Linked DNA regions of Homo sapiens: region 2 is linked to region 1. Evidence: fine-mapped QTL for protein levels in blood plasma. A gene starts in region 1. The other region holds a variant in brackets. All regions are shown on one strand. Distances are between the middles of the regions.

Region 1 (8,874 bases):
GATGAAATGAAAGTTCGAGCTCTCCAGAGTCAATGGCCTCCTCTCTAGCAGAACTGGAAGAAATTAATAACAGGATAAAAGCCAAAGGTTTCAGGAAAAACAGCCCATCAATTAAATGTTACACCTAAATGTAACATTTGAAATGTAACATCTAAATGTGACATATTTAAATGTAACCTTTAACATTTAACATTTCAATGTTAAATGTTAAATTTTTGAGACAGGATCTTGCTCTGTCATCTAGGCTGGGTCTGGAGTGCAGTGGTGTGATCACAGCTCCCTGCAGCTTTGATCTCTCGATCTTCTGGGCTCCAGTCATCCCCCAGGACTCATGTCAGACTCCTGAATAGCTGGGACGAGAGGTGCCTGTCACCATATCTGGTTATTATTATCATTATTATTAAGAGTGTCTCACTATATTGCCCAGGCTGGACTTGAACTCCTGGGCTTAAGTGACCCTTCCACACTGGCCTCCCAAAGTGCTGGGATTACAGGAATGAATCACCACACCTAGCCTGTTTTTATTTCAGTCCTTCTAAATGACTGGATCTGATCAATTATTTTTTGTGCTTAATCAAATGTCTCCATTGCTAATCTTCAAAACAAATGAAATCAATTTAATTCAGATTTCCATAATTGCTCATGCTCCTCCTTAACCTTCTGGAATAATAAAATTTCCCAATACCATTGCCCCCCGCCACCCACACCCCCCTAGTTCCCGAAAATATATGTGCTTCTTTTTGTTACAAAAAGTTTAAATTGCCTGAGGCTCTGGGAAAATTCTATCACTATGGCAATTCCAAGAAGAAACAAGGCACAGTCCTAAATGAAGATTTGTTCTGTCTCTACCACATATATGCCTTCACACAAATAGTAGGTTTCAGAAGGAGTTACTGGTGTAGAAGAAATCCACTACTATATTCAAGGCAAACTTCCTCTCAGAAAAATGAAGAAATGAGGACGCCTTGTGTATGTTGCTGCTACCTGAGAGCAAGTCTTTGAAACCAAAATCAGGAGATGGTTAAGAGTAAAAAAGAACAAATACTAATTTTTAAAATCAACTTTTGAAAAAAACAACTTTATTGAAGCATAATTTACATACCGTAAAATTCACTCATTTTGTGTATAATCCCCAGAATTTTGAAGCTTTTACCAAATTGTACAGTCATCACTGCAATGTAGTTTTAGAACACAGATTTCCATCACCTCAATAAGATTCCCTGTGCCCTTTTACAGTTAATTCCTGTTCCCAGCCCATAAACTTGGGTACCCATGAATCTACTTTCTGTCTCTATTGATTTCCCTTTTTTTGTCACATTTCTCTCTCTGAATACAGTTTTAGAAAGAAAGAAGGAAAGAAGGAAAAAGAAAGAAAGAAAGAAAGAAAGAAAGAAAGAAAGAAAGAAAGAAAAAGAAAGAAAGAAAGAAATCCAAGAGTATTTCCTACCAATAGGAGAATACAATTTACTGAGGAAGAACCCACCTGGATAAAATAGAATTCTTAAGGAAGTCCAACGATCCTGGACACCACACACGTTGGTTGAATTAGAGTCAGAGTGGTCTTTAAGATTTAATTATCTCTCCAATTAGAGATAACAGACTTAGAGTTACAAGGGACCTTGATAATTAAAGAATACTGTAGTAAGCCCTGTTATCTTAACTAAGAAACGCCTCTGTTTCTAAAGTTTAAAAAAAAAGGCAAAAAAAAAAAAAACCTTTCAAGTAAAAGAGTAAACTCCCAAGCATTCCTATAAAAATCAGTCAGATGTTATTTTTTTTCTTATGAGACAGAGATATCCTGTTTCCTTAAATAAATTAGATATCTATGGGATTGAAATATAAAAGTTTCTTCCAAAATGTAAGGTGGGCTTTCCACTTCAAGCTCCACTATGCATATGATTCTAGTGTATTTTCAGTGCAGTAAATATATCAAACTATCATGGTTTTGGTTGACCAAATACTTTTCTAATCACTTATTTCCTTCCCCCAGAATCAATGAATTTTAAGAAAGCTTTAGCTACAGGTTTATCTTGCTTACATCCGGATTTCCAGGTATCCTTCCCTCTGGAAGAAACACTCGGCTTCCCAGAAATTTACCAAGCATTTTACAAGGAGCTCTTTTATATTTGAAAAGAGAAAACTGTTTTGTCAAGTGATGAGAAATTCCAAAAAAATCCTCTAACCCAGACAGGATTCTAAATTTGGGGAAATCCATGGCACTCTTTCAATTTGGAGTGTGGGTCACAAAGATTCCTCAAGAGGTTTTTTTACACTATTTGTAGGAAACTGATATTTGCTGGGTGTTTTGCTTTGTTTTGGTTTGGTTTTAAATCCTTGCATGAATAAAAACAAATGCTAATTTTGTGTCTTTAATGTGTCAGGCATTTTATAGAACACAGAGTTCTAATTACTCCTGTGGCAATTACTGAAGGTGAAACTTTTGGAGAAAATAGGTACCTTGCCGAAATAAATATATTTTATTAGTAGCTTCTTGTGTTTTAAAGCAAATGGAACCTCTGAACTCCTAACACAAGGAGAAGGCAAAGCATTCAGTTCGGGTCTCTCTGGATCTACTGTGGAAGTGGTGGACTCCTCCTTCTGAAGATCTTTAAAAGCAATTGTGCCTGTGTTTATCTGACAAAAAGGACTGATGTGATGTGTTGCTAAATGAGAGACTTTTCAGATTCCCTTTCCACTCTGAGTTTAGAGTTCAAGGCGGGGGAATCTTAAAGGAGAACTTTCCACACTCTTGGAGTAAATAACAATTGAAATATAAAAAATCTGGCGGCGGGGGATGGAGGGGGCATTCTGTAATGGAACTTGTCAGCAAAAAGAAAATGGCAAATAAATGTGAGAAAGGGGCCGAAGGAGGGCAAGACAGTACATAGGGTGCCCCCCACCCACCCGGCTTTTAATGATTCAAGCAAAAAAATCTCTGCTTTGTGTGTAACTGGCACGGTGAACGTGGGAAAGGACACGAAGACCTTTCTCTCCCCACAGCTGGTCCAACTTTCCAATTTTCAGGTTGTTCACAGTGATTTCACTTTCAGTGGAAACGGGCGTCCCATCCCCAGGAAAGGAAGGCTTTCCTGCATGTGTAAAAAAGTAAACTGTTACTTTGTCCTTGCAAAAGAAAACTTCATTCTCTGAACTTCCCCGGGATCTGCAAAGCGCCCCGCGGAACTCCCGGTACTTAGTAGAAGCTCATTAAAGGTCTCTGTTCCCCTTTGCTCCCCGTTCGCCCGCTGGCCCTTTCTCAGAGCCAGACAGGCACAGCGCTGAGAAGGGAAGAAGTCCGAACAGGGAGCTGTGAAGACAAAATAAGGGAGTCCCGAGTCAGTACCCTTTAGTCCAAAGAAAGGGAGCGGGATGGGGGGAAAGGCAGCCCCGCCCTGGGACTGAAAAGTCTGGATTCTTAACAGCTGCAAGGTCGTGGATATTTTATGGGTTTTCTTCCTCACAAAATACACTCCTATAAGCAGAGATTCCCCCCCTCCACCCCGAAGAGAGGTGACGCAATGTCCTCAAACACTACCACCACCCCCAATAAAAAAGAAAAGGGAAGGGGGAGCGTCTTGCAACCCCTTCGCTTCACACAAGTCCAGCCACTCCCTTTCCTCCCAGCCGCTTCCCATCCCTTCCCCCATCCCCTAAAAAGTTTGATGACCGCAAAGGAAACCGAAAAAAAGTTGTCTTGCCCCAGTCCTGGCGGGCCATCAGCATCTCTTTTGTTCGCTGCGAACCCACAGTCCCCCGTGACGTCACCCGGAGCCCGGGCCAATCGGCGCGCGGTCGGCTGCGGCGGCCGGCGGGCGGGCGGGCGGGTGGGGTGGGGCGGGGCGGGGACAGCCCGGCGGGTCTCTCCTCCCCCGCGCCCCGGGCCTCCAGAGGGGCGGGAGGGGACCGTCCCATATAAGCCCCGGCTCCCGGCGCTCGGACGCCCGCGCCGGCTGTGCTGCACAGGGGGAGGAGAGGGAACCCCAGGCGCGAGCGGGAAGAGGGGACCTGCAGCCACAACTTCTCTGGTCCTCTGCATCCCTTCTGTCCCTCCACCCGTCCCCTTCCCCACCCTCTGGCCCCCACCTTCTTGGAGGCGACAACCCCCGGGAGGCATTAGAAGGGATTTTTCCCGCAGGTTGCGAAGGGAAGCAAACTTGGTGGCAACTTGCCTCCCGGTGCGGGCGTCTCTCCCCCACCGTCTCAACATGCTTAGGGGTCCGGGGCCCGGGCTGCTGCTGCTGGCCGTCCAGTGCCTGGGGACAGCGGTGCCCTCCACGGGAGCCTCGAAGAGCAAGAGGCAGGCTCAGCAAATGGTTCAGCCCCAGTCCCCGGTGGCTGTCAGTCAAAGCAAGCGTGAGTACTGACCGCGGGCTGAAACAGGCTGCCTCAGGGATGGGACCCTAAAGCCGACCAAAGTTGGGGCTGAAGTTTTGTGCGCGCGCGTGTGTGCGAGTGTGTGCGCGCTTTACTGAGAGAAACCAGCTGTGCACACAAAAGGACCGAGTTTTGAGCACGCTGGTTCTGAGGGCCTGGGATGATAAGACCGTGCATTGGAGGACGAGGACTCTGCGACTTTCCCGTGTTCTAATAAATTCTGCACGTTCAGATTGTCCTTCTAGGAATTAACCAAAACTTGCCTTTAAAGAGAAAAATGATGCATGTCTATAAATTTTCCGTCTGGGATTAGTGTGGTCCTTACTGCTACTTATTTCCTTCTGTTAAATAATTGGTCAAATATTTTCAACATGGGGGTGGAAAGGGGGTATTGAAATAGCTGTCTTGTTTCTAACTAACTTGGAAGAGATGTAATTGGTTCAGACCTCTTTAGGGCCGCTCAGGATACTTCACCAAGAACAGAGGTTGGAATTCTTTCCGTTTTTCAAAGACACACCCTCCTTTTGCTTTGAGAAAGCTGCTTAAAGTTGTCCTTTTTGACTATTACTCCAAAAGAATATTTAAGTTCCTTGCATGTTTTAAAAATGTGACTTCAATTGTCTGCCTTCCAAAATGTTTCCAACTTTTTTATGTAGACCCCTGGCCAGATGGAAATGACATCATTGTATATAACTTTTAGCAAAGTTAAAAGGAAAAAAATATGTACGTCAATATTCACATGAAGAAAATTCCATAATTTTGGGAAAAGGAGAAATGCAAATGTAACGTTTTCCTTCAATTATTTGCAGCCGGTTGTTATGACAATGGAAAACACTATCAGATAAATCAACAGTGGGAGCGGACCTACCTAGGCAATGCGTTGGTTTGTACTTGTTATGGAGGAAGCCGAGGTTTTAACTGCGAGAGTAAACCTGAAGGTAAGTGACAACAAGCCCCATAGTTAGTATCTTTTAATACATGAAGTGGTAATTGTTAAACTTTGCATTAGTAAGTAAAAATACATACACCATTTTTCTAATAGAATTACCTGTCATTTCCTCTTAAGTTTAAAAACTGCTTATATTTGCTTTTCACATGCTTTTACCTTTAAAACAAAGAAACGAATCTTTCCCAAATTAGTTCCTAGAGTCTTCTTTTTGCTTTACTCTCCCAAAGTTTTTGATGAGAAAAATGAAAGATTTTGTGTGTCCTCCGACAAAAAAAATTGCTTATAAAATTTTAATTTATTAGAAAGCAGTCTCAAATCTTAAACTGTTAGTTTATGAGCCAGAAAACACTTTGGGGACTTACATCGTAAAATGATTTGTCAGCGGCAGTTAACACAAAACCATTAGCCACTTCAAAGTTCTCATTCCTTTAGGACCAATGATATTTTTCTCATAAATTATAGCAACTCTGTCAGAGAAGCACTGATCAGGGGAAAATGGAAATCATAGGATTAACAACTGTCAAGGCCTTGTGGGAGGTGGGGATCTTCGAATTGTTTGTTTGTTTTTGTTTTGTTTTGTTTTTGAGACAGAGTCTTGCTCTGTCACCAGGCTGGAGTGCAGTAGCACTATCTCAGCTCACTGCAACCTCTGCCTCCAGGGTTCAAGCAATTCTCCTGCCTCAGCCTCCTGAGTAGCTGGGACTACAGGCACATGCCACCACACCCAGCTAATTTTCATATTTTTAGTAGAGACGGGGTTTCACCGTATTGGTCAGGGTGGTCTCGAATTCCTGACCTCAGGTGATCCACCCGCCTCAGCCTCCCAAAGTGCTGGGATTACAGGCGTGAGCCACTGTGCCCGGCCAATCGTTTGCTTTTTATGTGAACCTTGCTTTGACTTTCTGAGTCAGAGATTGGAATGTGAAACCCTTCACAAATCTAGCTCTGTCATAAGTTAGTACTTTATATGGCCTTTTCCTAAGAGCCTGAGATTTTTCTACAATATGAATAATTTACAGAAAATTTGACAATATGTCAAGGTCAAAAACCATGGCCTTATTAGAGCTTAGGATAAAAATCTGTATCTCTCACTTCATTTTATTCTTTGAGGTGTACCATGTTACTTGTGGAATAGAGAAGTGGGTTTTCCTTTAGAGGGGATTAGTGAACTAGAAAAGCTTGTACCTAAGTGAGGCTCACATGGACTTTCCTTTTCCCCTCAGCTGAAGAGACTTGCTTTGACAAGTACACTGGGAACACTTACCGAGTGGGTGACACTTATGAGCGTCCTAAAGACTCCATGATCTGGGACTGTACCTGCATCGGGGCTGGGCGAGGGAGAATAAGCTGTACCATCGCAAGTAAGGAAGAGATTGTGTAAAATGATGCCAAAATATCAAATATGAATTTCTCTGTTACCATCACTGTCATTTTCTGTTATCCATGACTGGATATTCCGAACTTTGAGGTTTGCCCCTGGTGACCAGGTACTCTTAAGTGGTCACCCAACTGGTTCCTGTGTTTCTTAAAGACGGGTATGAGCACAGATGGAATCAGTGTTTGATGTGTGTGCGTTTATGAGTGTGTGTGCATTTATGAGTGTGTGTGTTTCTGTACATAGTAGAACCAAGAGACCTCTTGGGTTCCATTTCAGTAAGACATGCTTAGGGGAGTTGCCCATTTTAAATCACCTGGATATCTTCAAGCTAGACAAATCATGAGACTTTTCTGCAGTGACTGGGAAGGTGTTCATGAAGAGTGAACCAGCCATGTGTTGTCTGGTCTTCATGTTTGCAATGCAGAGACCTCTTGCACCTCACAGAAACAGTCTGGTTTCTTGGTGACCAGTAGGTTATACCCAGGAAGCAGATGTCACTATTCCTAGGGATAATACAAAATTATTAACCCAATAGAGTTTGCTAAGGAACTTTGGGAACCGGGCTGATTCTCAACTCTAGTTTAGCTAAGGCACTCTTTCCAGTATGATTCACTGGGTTACCAATAGATTCTATTAAGATAGTATTTAAGTTTTTTAATCCATTCTTTAAATATAAGTCGTCTTAAAGACTTCTATTCAAAAGAACAAGTCCCGTGTGAATAGGCCCAATCAACTTTCCCCATATTTCATGTTAGGGTTTATCCAAGTTCACAGGCAAATCGCAAGAGGCAAGGGTCCATAGTGTTTACAATCTAGTTCAGCATTTGAATGTGCCATTGGGCTTAACAACTTAGAAAACTACCAGGATTTCCACACTTTATATGCATATGTCTGTTTGCTTTCCACCAAAATGACATTTCTATCCTAGGGTAAAATACAGGCTCTCCATGCTCCCAAAAGCTGGAGTGCTGTGCCTGATGTGGCCTTTTCACTGAATTAGTCTCAGTCTTAGCCTGCTGTGTATGAGTGAAGACCAAGCCTCCCAGCCTTTCTTTTCTGCTTAGGACCCAATTTCCTGTGATCTCTCTGGGAAAGCAGGATTCATGACCTCTTCCTTGCCATCCAGATTTCTCTGTGGTTTTCCATTGTGTTCTAAGCAAGACACTTAACTGAATTGACTCCAAGTGACCAGACCTGTTAACGTTTCCCCTGTCTCTGATGGGAAAGCTGTTGTCTGTGTCTCTACTTTAGCCAACCTAAGTACCTACCATGGGTGGAATATGAGACCAAAAAAAAAAATCTGTTCTGCCCTCTCCTAACATTTTCGTTGTATCTTCAACAGACCGCTGCCATGAAGGGGGTCAGTCCTACAAGATTGGTGACACCTGGAGGAGACCACATGAGACTGGTGGTTACATGTTAGAGTGTGTGTGTCTTGGTAATGGAAAAGGAGAATGGACCTGCAAGCCCATAGGTGTGTGAGTCTTAGGGCTGAGCAAGAGCTGGGATGCTTAGTTCTAATGTGGGGTTGGACCAGAATCACATCTACATAGGTCATAGACCTGAATTCCAGTGAAAACCAATAAAGAAATGGGAATTTTGTTTGAAATAATGAATTATTATATAATCCATAGTCTTCTTACAGGAGTTAGATCAAAAAGTACTGACTACACATAGAAGTCTTAACTTTGCTTCAAAAGCATAAGGTAGAATTGAAAGATTTAGAATGGAGTCATTTCTTTTACCTAATAGCTGATCTCAGATTCCTCCTTCGTCAAGATATAATTTATTTAAAAGAAAAAAAAATGACACTTTGGACACATTTCTATATGGAATGTCCTGGACCGAAACATGAAATAGTGTGTGCTTGTCACACTCTGCTCATTTCTTTTCAAATTAAAAGTTGTTGAGCTTCTTTGGATCTCAATCCTCAGTTGAATTTTGTAAGTACAAGCCTGAAAGTTTCTGGCTATAAATTTTACTCTGTTTACTTGTCTTCTAATTTAGAGGTTTTTGTCTTGTTTTGTATTGTTTTGCTTTCCAATATTTAAAAATAGCTTTCTTTGTCATTGTATTTAGGCCACTCAAAATTCATAATTGGTCATTTATAATTAAGATTGGAATTTTGCATATGTAGTCTCCCACAGACTAGATACATACATAGATCCTTGCT
Region 2 (16,347 bases), 16 kb after region 1:
TTGTCTTGCTTTGAGCACTTATGAAGGTGAACAAGATTAGATTTGATAATATCTTTGAGTTATTTTATTATCATTAATAAAATTGCTACTGGCCAAAAAAAATTATAAACATCGGCCACGCGCGGTGGCTCACGCCTGTAATCCCAGCACTTTGGGAGGCCGAGGCAGGCGGATCACGAGGTCAGGAGATCAAGACCATCCTGGCTAACACGGTGAAACCCCATCTCTACTAAAAATACAAAAAATTAACCAGGCGTTGTGGCGGGCGCCTGTAGTCCCAGCTACTCGGGAGGCTGAGGCAGGAGAATGGCATGAACCCGGGAGGTGGAGTTTGCAGTGACCCGAGATCGCACCACTGCACTCCAGCCTGGGTGATACAGCGAGACCCCATCTCAAAAAAATAAAATAAAATAAAAAATAAAAAAAATTATAAATGTCAGTCTACCAAAATAGATTAAAAGTGTAGGTGGGAATTAAATGGGGATAAACACTCAATAAATGTTAGCTATATATGAATATTGCCAATACTGAAAAGATTCCATTGTTCAAAAAAGTTTGAGAAGCAATGGGTTAAACAAAATGGAACCTGCTCTGCAGAATCTGTGTGTTCCTTTACATCATACTCTCCATGGTAGAGTGTAGGGGATGGGCGCCATGTCTCCCTAGTACGTTTGACCTTGGGATTCTTTGTCTGTGAACATCTTTGGGTTCTAGTGTTCAGCAGCACTTAGGGAGGCACTGAATTCAGTGTACCTTTGGTCTAGCCTCAGCCCTGATTCTGTTCTGCGGTGGGCCCTGGCCTTCAAGAGAACAGATATCTAAAAGTTGAAAGAAAAGATCGGCCGGGCGCGGTGGCTCACGCCTGTAATCCCAGCACTTTGGGAGGCCAAGGCGGGTGGATCACAAGGTCAGGAGATCGAGACCATCCTGGCTAACACGGTGAAACCCCGTCTCTACTAAAAATACAAAAAATTAGCCGGGCGTGGTGGCGGGTGCCTGTAGTCCCAGCTACTCGGGAGGCTGAGGCAGGAGAATGGCGTGAACCCGGGAGGCAGAGCTTGCAGTGAGCCGAGATTGCGCCACTGCACTCCAGCCTGGGTGACAGAGTGAGACTCCGTCTCAAAAAAAAAAAAAAAAAAAAAAAGAAAAAAGAAAAGATCAACACATCCTGTTGTGTTATTCTGAAAGGAAAGCTGTCTTAAGAGGATCAATTGGTTTTAGAAAAAACACAATAGAATCACAAATAATCCAGAGGAGAAATAAAATGTGGAAGGTGGAGGTGACCTCCAGAAAATCCAGGACAGCTGCTGAAGGCACCCTCTGATGAGCTCGGTTACTCAGAAGAGTGAGGATGTGTTGAAGGTATCTGCTGTATGGAGTGGCAGGATGATGTCTGTGATTGAGAAATATAATCCCGGCCAGGCGAGGTGGCTCATGCCTGTAATCCCAGCACTTTGGGAGGCCGAAGCGGGTGGATCCCCTGAGGTCAGGAGTTTGAGACAGGAGTTTGAGGTCAGGAGTTTGCCAACATGGCAAAACCCCGTCTCTACTAAAAAATACAAAAAAAATCAGCTGGGCATGGTGGTGCGTGCCTGTAATTGCAGCTACTTGGGAGGTTGAGGCAGGAGAATAGCTTGAACCCAGGAGGCAGAGGTTGCAGTGAGCCGAGACCGCGCCACTGCACTCCAGCCTGGGCAACAGAGTGAGACCCCATCTCAAAAACAACCCAAAAAACCAAAAAACAAACAAACAAAAAGAAATATAATCCCAGTAGCCCCAGCTGAGCTGGAGGATGGAGACCACTTGGTAGACACTTGTGGATTATTTCCTAGGCTAAATGCAAAAGCTACTGCTGAATAAGGGACATTTTTTTCCAGTCCCAGGCCAGTAGCGACATAGATTTCAGAGTGATCTCTGTGAGATCCTGAAGATCCTGACTGCAGAAAGTAGTGAATTGTCTTCTCTCACCCAGTTTTGTGACATTCCCTTTTCATGCCATTAGGATCTGGCCCCTTCACCGATGTTCGTGCAGCTGTTTACCAACCGCAGCCTCACCCCCAGCCTCCTCCCTATGGCCACTGTGTCACAGACAGTGGTGTGGTCTACTCTGTGGGGATGCAGTGGCTGAAGACACAAGGAAATAAGCAAATGCTTTGCACGTGCCTGGGCAACGGAGTCAGCTGCCAAGAGACAGGTATGCATTATCTTTTTGAAGAATAGGACTGATGACTTTATTATTTAGTTTTTGAAGGACAATACATTTTCAATGTGAAACAATAAAACAAACAAGAAGCCTGTAATCTTACCACCCTGTGATAACAATTAGGGTTGGCATTTGAAATAGTTTCTTCCAATCTTTTTAATTTATGTATTTTCTTTCTGGTCATGGATATCATGGGTAAAAATTTTATTGTATTTATCTGTCTAAAGTGTTGTTACAAGAGAGCTACTTTCTGAATAATCATCAATGTTTTATATTCTAAATCTCAAATTTCAGCAGCTTTGTGATGTAAACATCTTCCAATAACCTAATATATGTATTCTGCACTACAAACATGGTAGTCACTATGGCAATAACAATTGCTACACAATTCTCCCCCAGAATAGTCTCATATATTAATTTTATGGCATAGATATAGTCATAAATATTATCCCAACATCCTTAAGCAGCATCCTTAATTGACCTGTATAAATATAGCTTTACAAATAGAGAAACTGAGGCATGGCAGCAGAAGTGGTCATGAAGGACATCAGCAGAAGAACTCAGGTGTCGTTCTATCCACAGTAGACATGGATTCCTGAGTAATGCATTTTGACTGAAATTAACGAGATGATCATCTATACTCATAGCTTCTTCCTTTGAGGGCACAAGCTCAGTATCTCATTGAAGCCATAAATAAGCAGCTGCTGGTGGGAGATAAAGCATCTCTGTTTACTGACACTCTTTTGATTATGATTGTAGCTGTAACCCAGACTTACGGTGGCAACTCAAATGGAGAGCCATGTGTCTTACCATTCACCTACAATGGCAGGACGTTCTACTCCTGCACCACAGAAGGGCGACAGGACGGACATCTTTGGTGCAGCACAACTTCGAATTATGAGCAGGACCAGAAATACTCTTTCTGCACAGACCACACTGGTGAGTGTCCCAAGGGGGAGCCACAGAAGTGAGAAAAACTCACTTTCATGCCCTAGTTTTATTTGCCAGCATTCTAGCCATTTATTTTGAACCCGCCCAAGAAGCATCGCTTTTGTTCAGTTTGGACTCAAGAGATCGCAGCGCTCACGTAACAGCTGAGGATTCTTCCATCTTCCCCAGTACTGTTGGGAAATGACACCAAGGGAGTAGCCTTCCAGTTCATTTGATTTAACACATTGGGATTATGATGTGATTAAAGATACTTGTATTTTGGAATCAGTAGATGATCCCACAGGGCTGAGGAATACAAAGGATGAATGTTTTAGTGCCTTAGCTTATTTTCCAGTTAAAACAATGTTTTATTCAAAGCTATCATTTAATCTTTTGTGGGGGGGGTGCTGGGGAAATGACAGTGAAAGTGGGATTTAAACCTGTTTTGAAGGTGTGAAGGTAAATATGCTAAGAAGCTTAGAACTATATTATCAGACATTTTTTATTCTGAGATAGACTGTCTGTGAATGAGCTGCAGAAACCTGGCTCTCTCAGACCAGTAATTCTGTGTACATTGGAAAGCTCAGCGGTAATCTTTTCCTTCTTTGTTGTGTATTGTTCCTGGCAGTTTTGGTTCAGACTCGAGGAGGAAATTCCAATGGTGCCTTGTGCCACTTCCCCTTCCTATACAACAACCACAATTACACTGATTGCACTTCTGAGGGCAGAAGAGACAACATGAAGTGGTGTGGGACCACACAGAACTATGATGCCGACCAGAAGTTTGGGTTCTGCCCCATGGCTGGTAAGATGAAGCCCTTGTGGGTTGTCTTGTTTGACAACAATTTAGGGAGTAGAGACTAAAGACTAGTGTCCAGTTTACTCCCATTTCATTCATTAACACAATTTTGAGACAACAGAAAACTTCATGTGAAGTGTGTTTGTGTGTGTGTGTGTGTGTGTGTGTGTGTGTGATGTTACATCATATACATAAGGATTGGGAAGAATAATTAGATAATTATTTATATAATTTTTAAACCTCATTGACATGATTTAATGTCAAAAATATAATTACTTATTTGTAAGTCTGGAAATATGAATTTGCACAGGTTTGTCTTTGTAAAGAGCACACAACTGAGTAGCTTACAACATTTAATATATGTATGACGGCTTTAGTCACAGAGCTACAATATTGACACATGGTTGTGGTTTGATGGGCATAAGCTCTATCACTTATTAATAAGTGCCAAAGTGACTAAAACTCAATGTTTTCTAACAGGTAGGGAATCTCACTCTTTTTTTAAAGGTCCCCAGTTTGTATAGATGGCGAACAAATGGAAACGAATACCTTTTACTTGTTTTCAGATTTCAAGAACCCCATAGATTCCCTTTAATTTTCCAGTTGTAGAAACAAGAGCCTGGGCGGTAGGCACTGTCAAGTGTGACTATGAGACAAAGAAATTGCTTATACTTTTATTTCTTTCAACAAAAGAAGATGCTGAGTTTAGAAGAAAAAACCCACTTTTGCTTGTAATTCTATATCCAAACCCATAGTTTTTATTTGATCCAGAATAAACTGGAACTGGGAAAAGTTATGAAGCTGTAGTTAAATCCAGGCTTCTAGAACAGCAAGAACCCTTTGTGTGGATGTGTAGATATTATCTTAGTTTAACATCCCCTAACCCTTCCTGTAACTATTTTCTATGACACGTTTGGACTACGTTTTCTGCCTCCAGGGCTCAAAAATTCTACCCCTTCACCTGACAGCACTTAGATGTCTTTGATGCACACAAAGCTTCTTCCCAAGTGAGAATTCTTAGGATGACCAAACTGAACTGATCCTTTTGCACACATACATGTTTAGACCTGGTGATCATTTATCAAGTGCATTTCTTATCCATTTCCAAACAGCCCACGAGGAAATCTGCACAACCAATGAAGGGGTCATGTACCGCATTGGAGATCAGTGGGATAAGCAGCATGACATGGGTCACATGATGAGGTGCACGTGTGTTGGGAATGGTCGTGGGGAATGGACATGCATTGCCTACTCGCAGCTTCGAGGTATGCTGGCTGATTAACAAAAATATTTGAGATGGCAAAAGGTACAGAAAGGGACACTTTTTTTTATGAAAACTTGCACTATGCCAAAAGCAGGGGAAGAAATATGGAATGCCACGTCATTCATTAGTCTACTGTGCATGGTAAGATAAGCCTGAAAGGCTTAGCAGGCAGCCTGCTAAGACAAGCGGCATAGCAATGCTAATGTTCTGAAACACTCCTAGCATGTAAGTACTTAGGCTGAGCCAAAAAGATGGCTTCAAAAGTAAGAATGAAACATTTGATCCATTCAGCTTTAGGCTATGCCACTGGATTCATGTCTAGAAAAGATAGGATAATTTCTGTAAAGAAATGAAGACCTTGCTATTCTAAAATCAGATCCTTACAGATCCAGATTTCAGGAAACAAATACATAGGGGACTAACTTTCCTTGTTCAGATTAGTTTTTCTCCTTTGCACCCAGCTATATAATATGAGGAAGTATTGACTTTTTAAAAGTGTTTTAGTTTTCCATTTCTTTGATATGAAAAGTAATATTTCGGGAGAACCCTGAGCTATTAATAATCTATGTGGCTAGTGCGTAGATATTGGTCTGAATTTGTTCTCCTTTTGTGGTGTCCAGTGGGTAACACCATCCGGGAGTAATAATTACATGTGGTGTTGCAGAACTGAAAGAGACCTTAATAACACATAGAGACCTCACTCTATATAGATCAAGGAGCTGAGACCCAAAAAGGAAAAAGTAATTTTCTCAGGATCTCTCAAAGAGTGAGCAACAGAGTTGGCCTAATTTATTTTAGCGTTGTGAATACTGTTGACATTTTATTTCCCAAATCTAAGTATCTCCTCCCCTTCCCCCTATTCCAGAGACCAGACCACCACATCATGCTGGGTGTTAGATAAATATGTTTAATCTTCTTCTTATTTATCCTAACAAGCAGATATTTAAAGGAAATTATCAACTAAGCAAGAAATTTTCAGAAAGTAAGACATGTATTTGTTCAAATACTGGCTTCTCACAGGAAAGTGTATTTTACCACATTCTTTACTTGAGCATACTGTAACCTCTGCAAAAGTTACACATTTTGGGAAGAAAAAAATTTTTTTGGCAAAAATTGTATTACTGACCAAACTTTGAAAAAAATGTTATTCTATGCTTGTAGAAAAGTTATTTTAGTGGAAGGTGTTGATAATTAAGTGGAAGTAGTTGTATGCTTTGAGAAGCATACCTTTTTTCTTTCATCAATGGAACTTTAAAAAGTTTCTCACTCACCCACCTGTTTCCTAAACAGATCAGTGCATTGTTGATGACATCACTTACAATGTGAACGACACATTCCACAAGCGTCATGAAGAGGGGCACATGCTGAACTGTACATGCTTCGGTCAGGGTCGGGGCAGGTGGAAGTGTGATCCCGTCGGTGAGTAGCCCTATTTCCCTAGATGAGTTTGCACAGGGGGAATGGTTAGCAAGTTTCAGATAAGAAAAGCTATGTGAAATCACATGACTGAAGTTGGCTCCAGACTTTGATCAGTTGCTTGCAAAGAACTTTGCAAAGTCTTCTCTCTAATACTGGACCAAAATATCTCGATATTGGTAGTCGTCTGGTTTTTGCTGAATTTGGTGACAAATTTAGGCTTATTTTAATTGAATGGAATTTATTCTTGGGTTTAGAATCATAAAGATAATCCATGCTATTAAAAGTATTCTTTCCTTTTTTTTTTGTTTGTTTTTGTTTTTGTTTTTGTTTTTTTGAGAGAGAGTTTCGCTCTTGTTGCCCAGGCTGGAGTGTATGGCACAATCTCGGCTCACTGCAACCTCTGCTTCCTGGGTTCAAGCAATTCTGCTGCCTCAGCCTCCTGAGTAGCTGGGATTACAGGCATGCGCCACCAGGCCCAGCTAATTTTGTATCTTTAGTAGAGATGGGGTTTCTCCATGTGGGTCAGGCTGGTCTCAAACTCACTTCCTTACCAGCTGTGTAACAGCATGAGCAAAGGGTGTAAATATCACCCACCAAAACACTCTAGGTTTTTTTTTGGCCGCCCTTCAAAATAGAACTAAGCAAATAGTGAAGGCTGAGCCTTAAAAGAGCTGTGTTACCAGCACTACAAAGTTTAAGGTGATCCATTACTATTTCTTTACCAAAAGAGACAGGTTGCTCACTGAGAAAACAAACTGATAACATCCGTTTGTTTGACGTGAGATTACCAGAACTGAGAGAGAAGCCTGAGAGGTTTTCTTAGAAGCTGCTCAGCAGGTATACTCGTAAAGTCTAGTTCATTCATTTAAATGTCAAACAGTTTCTTTAAATTTTGAAGAAGTAAGGAAAATGAAATTATTGCAGATTTTTTTCTTGCTATTTAAATGTTAAGCCAGTTATATTAATATGGGTAAAAATAATAACTAATATTTAAAATTAATGTGTAGATTATCAATATACACTGAAATCTAAATCTTTACATTTTTATTTAGAAATATTACCTTTTAGAAAACTAAATATTCCTCCTAATAGGTACTTTGGTTTTTTTTTTACTACAAACTGTCCTGTAAGGTAAAGAATGTGAACAAAATATTTTTTTAACTGCATATATTTGTAAGAACAATTGCAAATTTCTATTTAAGCTAAATGTATGCTCTAGCACCCTGAAATTAAATTCGTAGTTATAAGTCTTCAAGGCTGTTTATCTTTTCCTTCCATGTATTTTAGACCAATGCCAGGATTCAGAGACTGGGACGTTTTATCAAATTGGAGATTCATGGGAGAAGTATGTGCATGGTGTCAGATACCAGTGCTACTGCTATGGCC[G/A]TGGCATTGGGGAGTGGCATTGCCAACCTTTACAGACCTATCCAAGTAAGTAGCTCTATTACTGCAAGTTGAGAACTGCCAATTGGGTTATAACAACAGGGCAGTGATTATTAATGCTCTCATGCCTAAGTTGGGGGTCTCCCCTCTTTCCCACCCTTTTCTCTTGTTATTATCTAATAATCAATTGAATTTTTGATTAAAATAATTTTTCTCTCTTCCTCTATCAAGTAAAAGGTAGAGAAGGCTATGAAAATGTGCCTGTTTATAATTTTACTTCTTAACTCTGTAAAATATTCTGTTAGGTTAAGACACTCTGGCTAATTTCATCTTATATCCATACATGGAAATAAAAACCACCAAGTGAGTTATGCTGGGAGTAAAGGTTTGGGGCTTTATATTATGATTCTTAACAGAGAAGCTGCATAGAGAGATGGCATGAAATGCAGCATAAGGTACGTGTTCATTCAACATGTCATCTAAGCTCCCTTTGCATCAAACTTTTCATTTGTTTGATCAGTTGCCACCAGGAACACAGTATGTTGGGCCAAGGGTTGAGTAACTTGGTCAACTCTCTGCCCACACAGTTCAAACACTCTCAAATGTTTATTGCTGGGTTTTTCCAGGTCACAAAGACATCATGCCTAGCTGTAGGTGTAATTAGTTCATTTGGGGGGAAAATTGCATTTAAATATTCACTGAGTGATTATAATAAAACATGTTAATAAAACATGAAAGGCTAATTAAAAGGCATCAGTTATTTGAGCAACTGCTGAGGTGCAAAGTCTCCAAAGTCTTCACTAACGTTTGACTGAAAATATGGCCTACATTCAGAAACAAAAGAGTTTCAGGGTGTCAGAATCTGCATGCGACAGAAATTAAGATTAACTCTGTGATAAAAGATTCACTGTGACAGAGAACAAGCTATGGGAACAACTTGGCCAAAGGTAGTGTTAGCCAAGCCTCATTCCTCCATTTCCTCATCTGTAATATGGGAAGATTGTAGCTGATTACCTTTAATGTTCCATCCTAAATACTAAACACCCAGATGCACCTTTTCTAGGAACTTGGAAGATTCTGCTTTTCCCAACCCTCAGACACTGTCAGTGCTGGGGAAGGTGACTTCACTTTTGAAGGCTTATAGCACAGATTGACCAACCTCCTAAATTGTATTTCTTGGAGGATTTAGGTGTAGGAATCACTTAATTTTTTGTAACTTAATATATATTTAAATCTGATTGTGGAAGTACTATAAGTATATGAATGGTTTGTTTGTTTATATGATGCAAATGATACTTAAATGGTAGAAACTTCTAAAAAAATGCTCTGTGGTTTCTATATTTATGATTGTTATTGGTGTTGCAATTTGCTGAAAATGATTTCCTTCTGAATGATTGAGAGAGATCTTCGTCTCTCTCAACATAAGGCTGTCCACATAGCTGCTTGCTGGAAGCATTTAGGTGGACATGTTGGAGATAAAATCTGGAAAGGAAGGAATCCTTGAGTATTGGAGTATTACATGTTGACCTTACTCCTACTCTTTAAAAAGGAGAACAGCAAGATCCCACTGAGCATAGAGGTGATTTCGGAGGGAAGAGATTGGAATTTGACCTCAGATATGCTCTTTGGTGCTTATCTGTATGTCTGGTTTGCTCCGTGGCCTAGCACGTAGGGCTTTAAGAGTGTGGTGAGAATAAGGGAACAGCAGATTACCAACAGATTGTCTCTGAGTCCTGCCTTGTTTGTTCCTCCTACAGAGAACTTGGTAGAGTTGTTCAAACTAGCAAAAGATAAGAGGCATTTGGTTTGTCAATAAGCAACTAGAAAAGCACAGATCTCAGCAAAATAAATAGAGAAAAAAAGGACTGAGTCAAAAAATCATAAATGTTTAACTTCTCCAAGGACACTACTATTGGAAATTATTCATTTAGACTTTATTTGAAACTAATTTTAAAAGTGTAGACATTGTACTATCTCCTTTTTTTGGTATCATCTCAACTATTTTATTGTTAGTTTATTCATATTGAATAAGAGAGGGAGTAAAGATTTCACAATGGCGATAGCTAGTATATGCCAATTAAGTTAATTTAAAAAGTTATACCAACTACCAGTAGCGAAAAAGGACTGTCAAAAGTTTAAATCTAAATAATGTAAAAGATGTCATAATTTTTAACTTTTCTGTCTTTAAAGGATACATAGTATAAGCTAGAGTAATTATACGTAGTATAAGCTAGAATATAGGAATTTAATTGATCTAAGAAATAACTGACACAAAGTCTCTTTACTTCCTGAACAAAAACATGCTAAATTCCATGCTGTTCAGTCCATTTCCTTTAAAGGTGGGCTATGCCACAGGGCTAGATTTTAAAACGTGGAATTTCACACCAGTGCTCGAAATCTTATGAAAGCAAAAGGGACCTCTGTAGTTGTACTCCACTTTGGCTTGAGTAAAAACCACTGCTGTACCCTTTTTCTTTCCTTTCCCTGCCCATTTTTATCCTCCTCCTTGTGTCCTTGTGGACATAGAAATATGATTAGGCTTAGAGGTGAACAGTAAAGGTCATTTATGTTATCTTTTCAAAACTTAATAGACATTTATCCATCATAAGCTTGTCCCCCCTCAAAATCATGATTGACAAGACTAAATAAAGTGTATATCAGGTGTCTCTTTATGGAGGAAATTGTAGTAGGATTTATTTAAAGGATCAATATTTAAATAGCCCTATGCCAATTATCATAAATAATTAAGGACATGATATTCCTAGCTTTCCTGATTTACATGGAAGTACGTTAAATAGTCACATCTCCAAAATTTTTCTTGAATAGTTGTCTTTAAAAATGTGTTTACATTTGTAAGGATCTTCATAAACAGAAGGGGTAATTCAAAGATAGGCATGGAATTGACTTATGCCAATTGATTAAAACAAACATCCTGTGTGTTCTGTGAAATACATACAACTTTAAAATGAAAAACTCATAATTTTATGCATGAATTTTGGTGTTCATGTGGCTTGGAAATATGTGCATTAAATGGAATTAAGATTCAAAGTATTTGCTAATCTTCAACCAACTTTGAATTGTTACTGGTGTGGAAGTGAGCATATTGTTTTAGAATTTCTGAATCTACATGGATATCCAAGTTATATATTTTTTCTGCTACAGAAAGCTTTGTTTTCCAAGAGAATTTAATGGCTTAGATAATAAAGTTTGAAAATCAATGTATTTTTTTTCCTAGAAGCTTTCAGAAAACTTAAATCTGTTAATAATCTGGTGAAGTGCTTTATTACACATACAAAATTTTGCTCTGTTTGACAGAGTGTCAGTTAGAAATTCTTGAAAAGGTTACTATAAGACACAATTTTTATTTCTAGTAATTTAAACATTGACTGACATCATAAAGATAGTGTTTTAAGAAAAGATAGTTTTCTGTTCTGCAAGCATAAATTTTCTAGCTATTTCATTATTATCTTAAATGGAGTTAACACTACTTAGAAATTGATGCTACTTCCCTTATTTTCCTTTTATTTTAAACAAAAGAACCAAAACCATACTTTAAATTTTGTTGATAACAGTGATATACATCAAGGTGTAGAAATACTGAATTTAGTATACACTTCATAAAGTCATTTCTGTTGACAACTGATTTTGGAAAAAAAATAAATTTAATCACTTAATAATTTGATGGATCAATGGTGTGATTTGGGAGTAAACTTCTTGAATAAAAATAAAACTTGATGTTTTTTCCAAACTGATAGACTGCTTAGACTGATGAGAAATAAAACTAGGTCTTTAATTATTACCTTTGCTATTTGTCTAAGATTCTACCCCCATTTAGAAATGTGTTTGTTTTACATCATCTCATATGGCCTTTGGAATGTTGTTTCCTTCTTAGGTAGTAGATTCATTCTTGATGAAAACCTTCCAAAATTAGAATTTGCTTTAAAAGAGGCTCAATACAATAAGTAAATGAAGTCTGTGTTCTGTATTACATTATTTTTGTAGGATCGTTTCACAATTTTCTCACAATTCTTACTTTGATAGTAGAGAAAATAAAAGCAAGCCAAGAGACTTTTTTTTAAAAATATATTTTATTTGCTATAAACAACTATGATTTGCATTTCTCATGTGAAGAATAATAATTATCGGCTAAAAATGGATTTGCTGCATTGATTTTCAACGTAAATATTTAAAAGATTAATGCCAGATAATTTTATTATACTCACATTTAACGACAAGCAAAGCTGTTTATAATGATGACTGTCCATGTACACAGTTTTAAGTTGAAGTGAGTGAATATTCAAGATAATTAAATGCTACATTTTCATTTTCAGGCTCAAGTGGTCCTGTCGAAGTATTTATCACTGAGACTCCGAGTCAGCCCAACTCCCACCCCATCCAGTGGAATGCACCACAGCCATCTCACATTTCCAAGTACATTCTCAGGTGGAGACCTGTGAGTATCCCACCCAGAAACCTTGGATACTGAGTCTCCTAATCTTATCAATTCTGATGGTTTCTTTTTTTCCCAGCTTTTGAGCCAACAACTCTGATTAACTATTCCTATAGCATTTACTATATTTGTTTAGTGAACAAACAATATGTGGTCAATTAAATTGACTTGTAGACTGAGGGGATTTTGGTTTTGGTTTTGGGTTTTGTTTTTTTGCGGTGGGGGGGCTGGTATTTGGAAGAATTTAGCTCTTTATGTTACAGAAATCTTTTTTGCAAGGACTTAGAAATGATAATGCTTAAGATTGTTCTTGCCCAATGTGGGAAGAGAATCTAAGGTTTTTATATGTCTTGCAACCTCATCAAAGGAAAATTACTGGCATCATTTTCATAATTTGAAAAAAAAAGCCAAATTAATATATTTCTTTTTTGATTCACTTTTTAAGTGATCATTTTTAAAACTTTACTTTTGACCCACTGAATTTATTTAGATAGAAGGAAAAGAGATGATGGGAGGGAAGTTTAGATAAAGGATGGAAGTTGGTTTTATTTAAACAATAGCCCTGTGATTTCCTAATGAGAAGTGACTAGAAATTGAAGAAACCAAATAAGGAGGATATTGGTCAATTTAGCTTTAGTTTCTCTTACTCTCTCAAGCCTGCCCTGTTTAACTCCAAAGTTCATGGCTCATAATTTGAGAAACACTGTTTTAAACACAGGAGAAAAAAATGTCCATTTTAAATCATAGCTATTGAATTCTACAATTACAAAGAAACAAACAAACAAAATTTGACCAACCCAGGCGGTTAAATTTAAACTCTTCAGGAAAAATTTAAGCTGTTAAAATTATTCTTTTTCTAAATTTCTAAAGTGGAGGGACAGAATTTTTCAGATTTAAAAGGGCCTCCTAGGTGCCCAGAAAATTAGTGGAAAGAACCACGTCTAGACGCATCTTTGATGTGTCAGAGTTCCAAGGATAAAAAGAAACTTTTAAAGTCTTCTATACTCAGCCAGGTTATCAATCAAATATGAGGGCAAAATAATATTTTCAGACAGATTTTAGGCAGTTTATCTTCCATATATCCTTTTCTTTAAGGGTATTTGTAGATACACTCCAGAAAAACAAGAGTGAAATATGAAGGAAGTTGTGGGGTCCAGCAAACAGTGCTTCCAAATCAGACCCCTGATAGAGGTGGAAAACTTTGCAATGCAACAACTGCGTAGCTGGCTTAGAGGACAGCCAATACAGATGGAACAGAAAGATGAGGATGGGATTGAGGGATCAGGGATTGAGGTCTCCAAGAATAAAAAGGGACTTCATGGAAAAAGTAGGCTTGTGGATAATTAATCACAGGGGCAAATAATGCAGTTAAAATAACAACATGACAATCAGGTGGAGGAATGTATAATAAACCCAAATGTGGCTGGGTAGAGTGGCTCACACCTGTAATCCCAGCACTTTGGGAGGCCAAGCCGGGCAGATTACCTGAGGTCAGGAGTTCGAGACCAGCTTGGCCAACATGGCGAAACCCCGTCTCTACTAAAAATACAAAAATTAGCCAGGCTTGGGGGCGCACGCCTGTAGTCCCAGCTCCTCAGGAGCTGAGGTAGGAGAATCACTTGAACCCAGGAGGCAAAGGTTGCAGGGAGTTGAGCCAAGATCGCGCCATTGCACCCTAGCCTGGGCAACAGAGCGAGATTCTGTTTCAAAAAACCCCCAAGTGTATTATAAGGCAATAATTCCTATACGAAGCAAACTAAAATGCAGCAATATTAAGGTATAAAAACAAAGAGGAATAATTCCATTGAACCTTGATTCTGGAAACTTTGATCCACCCAGCAGTCATGATGTTAGACTCATTGAAAAGAATGTATTTCTAATGCATGATGCGATCGGTCTATAGATGTGTCATGGAAACTTGGTTGCAACTTCAAGACAAAATAAAAAGTAAACATTTACATGAAAAATGGTGGATATGGAAGGTGGAGAAGAGAGGAGATAACAGCTTTATCTTTCAAAATAGAGAATTGAGAGATGGTACCAAAAGCTGATGAAGTAAAAAAAAAAAAAAAAAAAAAAGATACTTAATATAATACTTTAAATTACAAATATAAACACAAGAAGAACAAATATAATGATACAAATGTCAGACACTGGGAATGTCCAAGATTCTGGAAGGAAAGGGTGGTATTATTGAGCTAAATCCTCAACTTTGTCTGGGCACAGTGGCTAAAAATTAGCCGGGCATGGTAGCATGCACCTGTAGTCCCAGCTACTTGGGAGGCTGAGGCGGAAGGATCGCTTGAGCTTGAGAGGCGGAAGTTGCAGTGAGCCAAGATGGCACTACTGCACTCCAGCCTGGGAGACAGAGAAAGACCCTGTGTCAACATAAATAAATATATAAATAAATCATCAAGTCTCATATTAAAGACTCTGTAAATATGACTTATTGTTGACAAATGAAACAAATAGAGGTGTAAGCATGTTGTCTACATGGAGGCAAGACCAGAATAATAGAAAATGGAAACAGATTCCCTTAAAGAGGGGAATCGTGTCTTTCTCATTGGCTCAATGTAGTCTCCGTAGAGTCTAGAATGCTTCAGCACCTGGCACACTGCTTAACAAATGGTGAATGAAAAAAAAAAAAAGAAAAGTCATTCTTTTTCTTCTTTCACCCTATGTCCATAATCTGGCCATTTGCAGAACTTGATGTCCAGTGATCGAAATCAACAGCATCAGTGCATCCAATATCTTCTAGTCTCTCATCTTCTTATTACATCATTAATTTTATTTACTTTAAAATTAAGGATATCCAAAGTATTATGTGAGACCATTGCAATGGGAGACTTAAAAGTGGTATAAAATGTACTTTGGGCCAGGCGCAGTGGCTCACGCCTGTAATCCCAGCACTTTGGGAGGCCAAGGTGGGCGGATCACGAGGTCAAGAGATCGAGAGCATCCTGGCCAACATGGTGAAACCCCGTCTCTATTAAAAATACAAAAAAATTAGCTGGGCATGGTGGCGCATACCTGTAATCCCAGCTACTCGGGAAGCTGAGGCAGGAGAATCGCTTGAAACCAGAAGGCGGAGGTTGCAGTGAGCCAGGATCACGCCACTGCACTCCAGCCTGGGCAACAAGAGCGAAACTCCATCTCAAAAAAAAAAAAAAAAAAGTACATTGAATTGGAAAGTCTTCAAAAAGCAGCAGTGATGAATTTTTTGAGATTTTTAACAATTACAAAAATTCAGGGTTTTTTCTAATGGATGCCACCTGAGACTTTATTTTCTGTTATTTTCTTGTAATAACTAACCAAACAAGCTCATGTTGAAAAATGATTACTAAATTTGAGCTAATTGCAATGACTGGTTTCAAAATTTTCCACAGTGTATTTGAGTTAAAATTTCACTGTGAAGAGTACTACGATCACTCTCGCTTATTCCAAAAATATAAATGGACACTTGAGTATTTGAATTATTGAGGAAATGGTTGACTGGGTAATTTTTAAAAATCACTGGGCACAAAAAATATATTTTGACTTATATTAGTTTAGAGTATTTACACTTGAAAGAGTCTCATCTTTTCTGAAGGGTGTTTCTTTCATACACATTTTATTGCACTGAGTTTTGTGACCCATGGCATATTAATGAAGCTGAACAGGATGTGAAATATAAACTGGAAGCAAAAGATTAAATAAACCAAAATTGCATTTTTTCTGTAGTCTTGTCCAAAATTGGGTAACCACTTCTGATGGGGTAGCTCATATCCAAGAATGAGTCACAAAACCAGACTCGTTGAACCTGGTATATGATGAGTCACAAAGCAACATTCTGCCTTTGTTTTTTCAGGACAAGAAACTTGAATTGTATCCCACTGAGTTAAAAGATAAAATATATGGCA

Alleles and levels. Positions count from the first base shown, and alleles are read on the strand shown. Strength reflects both the effect of a copy and how common the allele is.
For the plasma level of the protein whose gene starts at base 3,940 in region 1, allele A in region 2 goes with a lower level than allele G (weak association).

The links. PIP is the chance, under the fine-mapping model, that this variant and not a neighbour inherited with it causes the effect. The UK Biobank Pharma Proteomics Project read protein levels with antibody pairs (Olink). The fine-mapping took linkage between variants from a reference panel, not from the people measured, so its PIPs are less certain.
Region 2: its variant is fine-mapped to the plasma level of the FN1 protein (UK Biobank, PIP above 0.99). The variant lies in the coding sequence of FN1. If it changes the protein, the assay may bind it differently, which can mimic a change of level.

Annotation. Positions count from the first base shown.
Region 1 is chr2:215,431,134-215,440,007 of GRCh38, reverse strand. FN1 (fibronectin 1) reads left to right here and starts at 3,940. Exons shown (of 46, transcript NM_212482.4): 1 at 3,940-4,353; 2 at 5,184-5,312; 3 at 6,547-6,684; 4 at 8,044-8,175. The coding sequence starts at 4,206. FN1-DT (FN1 divergent transcript) reads right to left here and starts at 4,317. Exons shown (of 2, transcript NR_187198.1): 1 at 3,699-4,317; 2 at 1,063-3,089. RefSeq lists silencers at 3,757-3,846, 3,857-3,916 and an enhancer at 5,429-6,628.
Region 2 is chr2:215,410,941-215,427,287 of GRCh38, reverse strand. FN1 (fibronectin 1) reads left to right here. Exons shown (of 46, transcript NM_212482.4): 7 at 2,003-2,194; 8 at 2,963-3,142; 9 at 3,762-3,938; 10 at 5,045-5,197; 11 at 6,487-6,615; 12 at 7,903-8,046; 13 at 12,330-12,451. Among named protein-coding and RNA genes, the nearest start is that of FN1-DT, 17 kb to the left of the region's middle. RefSeq lists an enhancer at 2,767-3,966 and silencers at 6,448-6,742, 16,108-16,347. The variant G/A (reference allele first, on the strand shown) is at 8,002.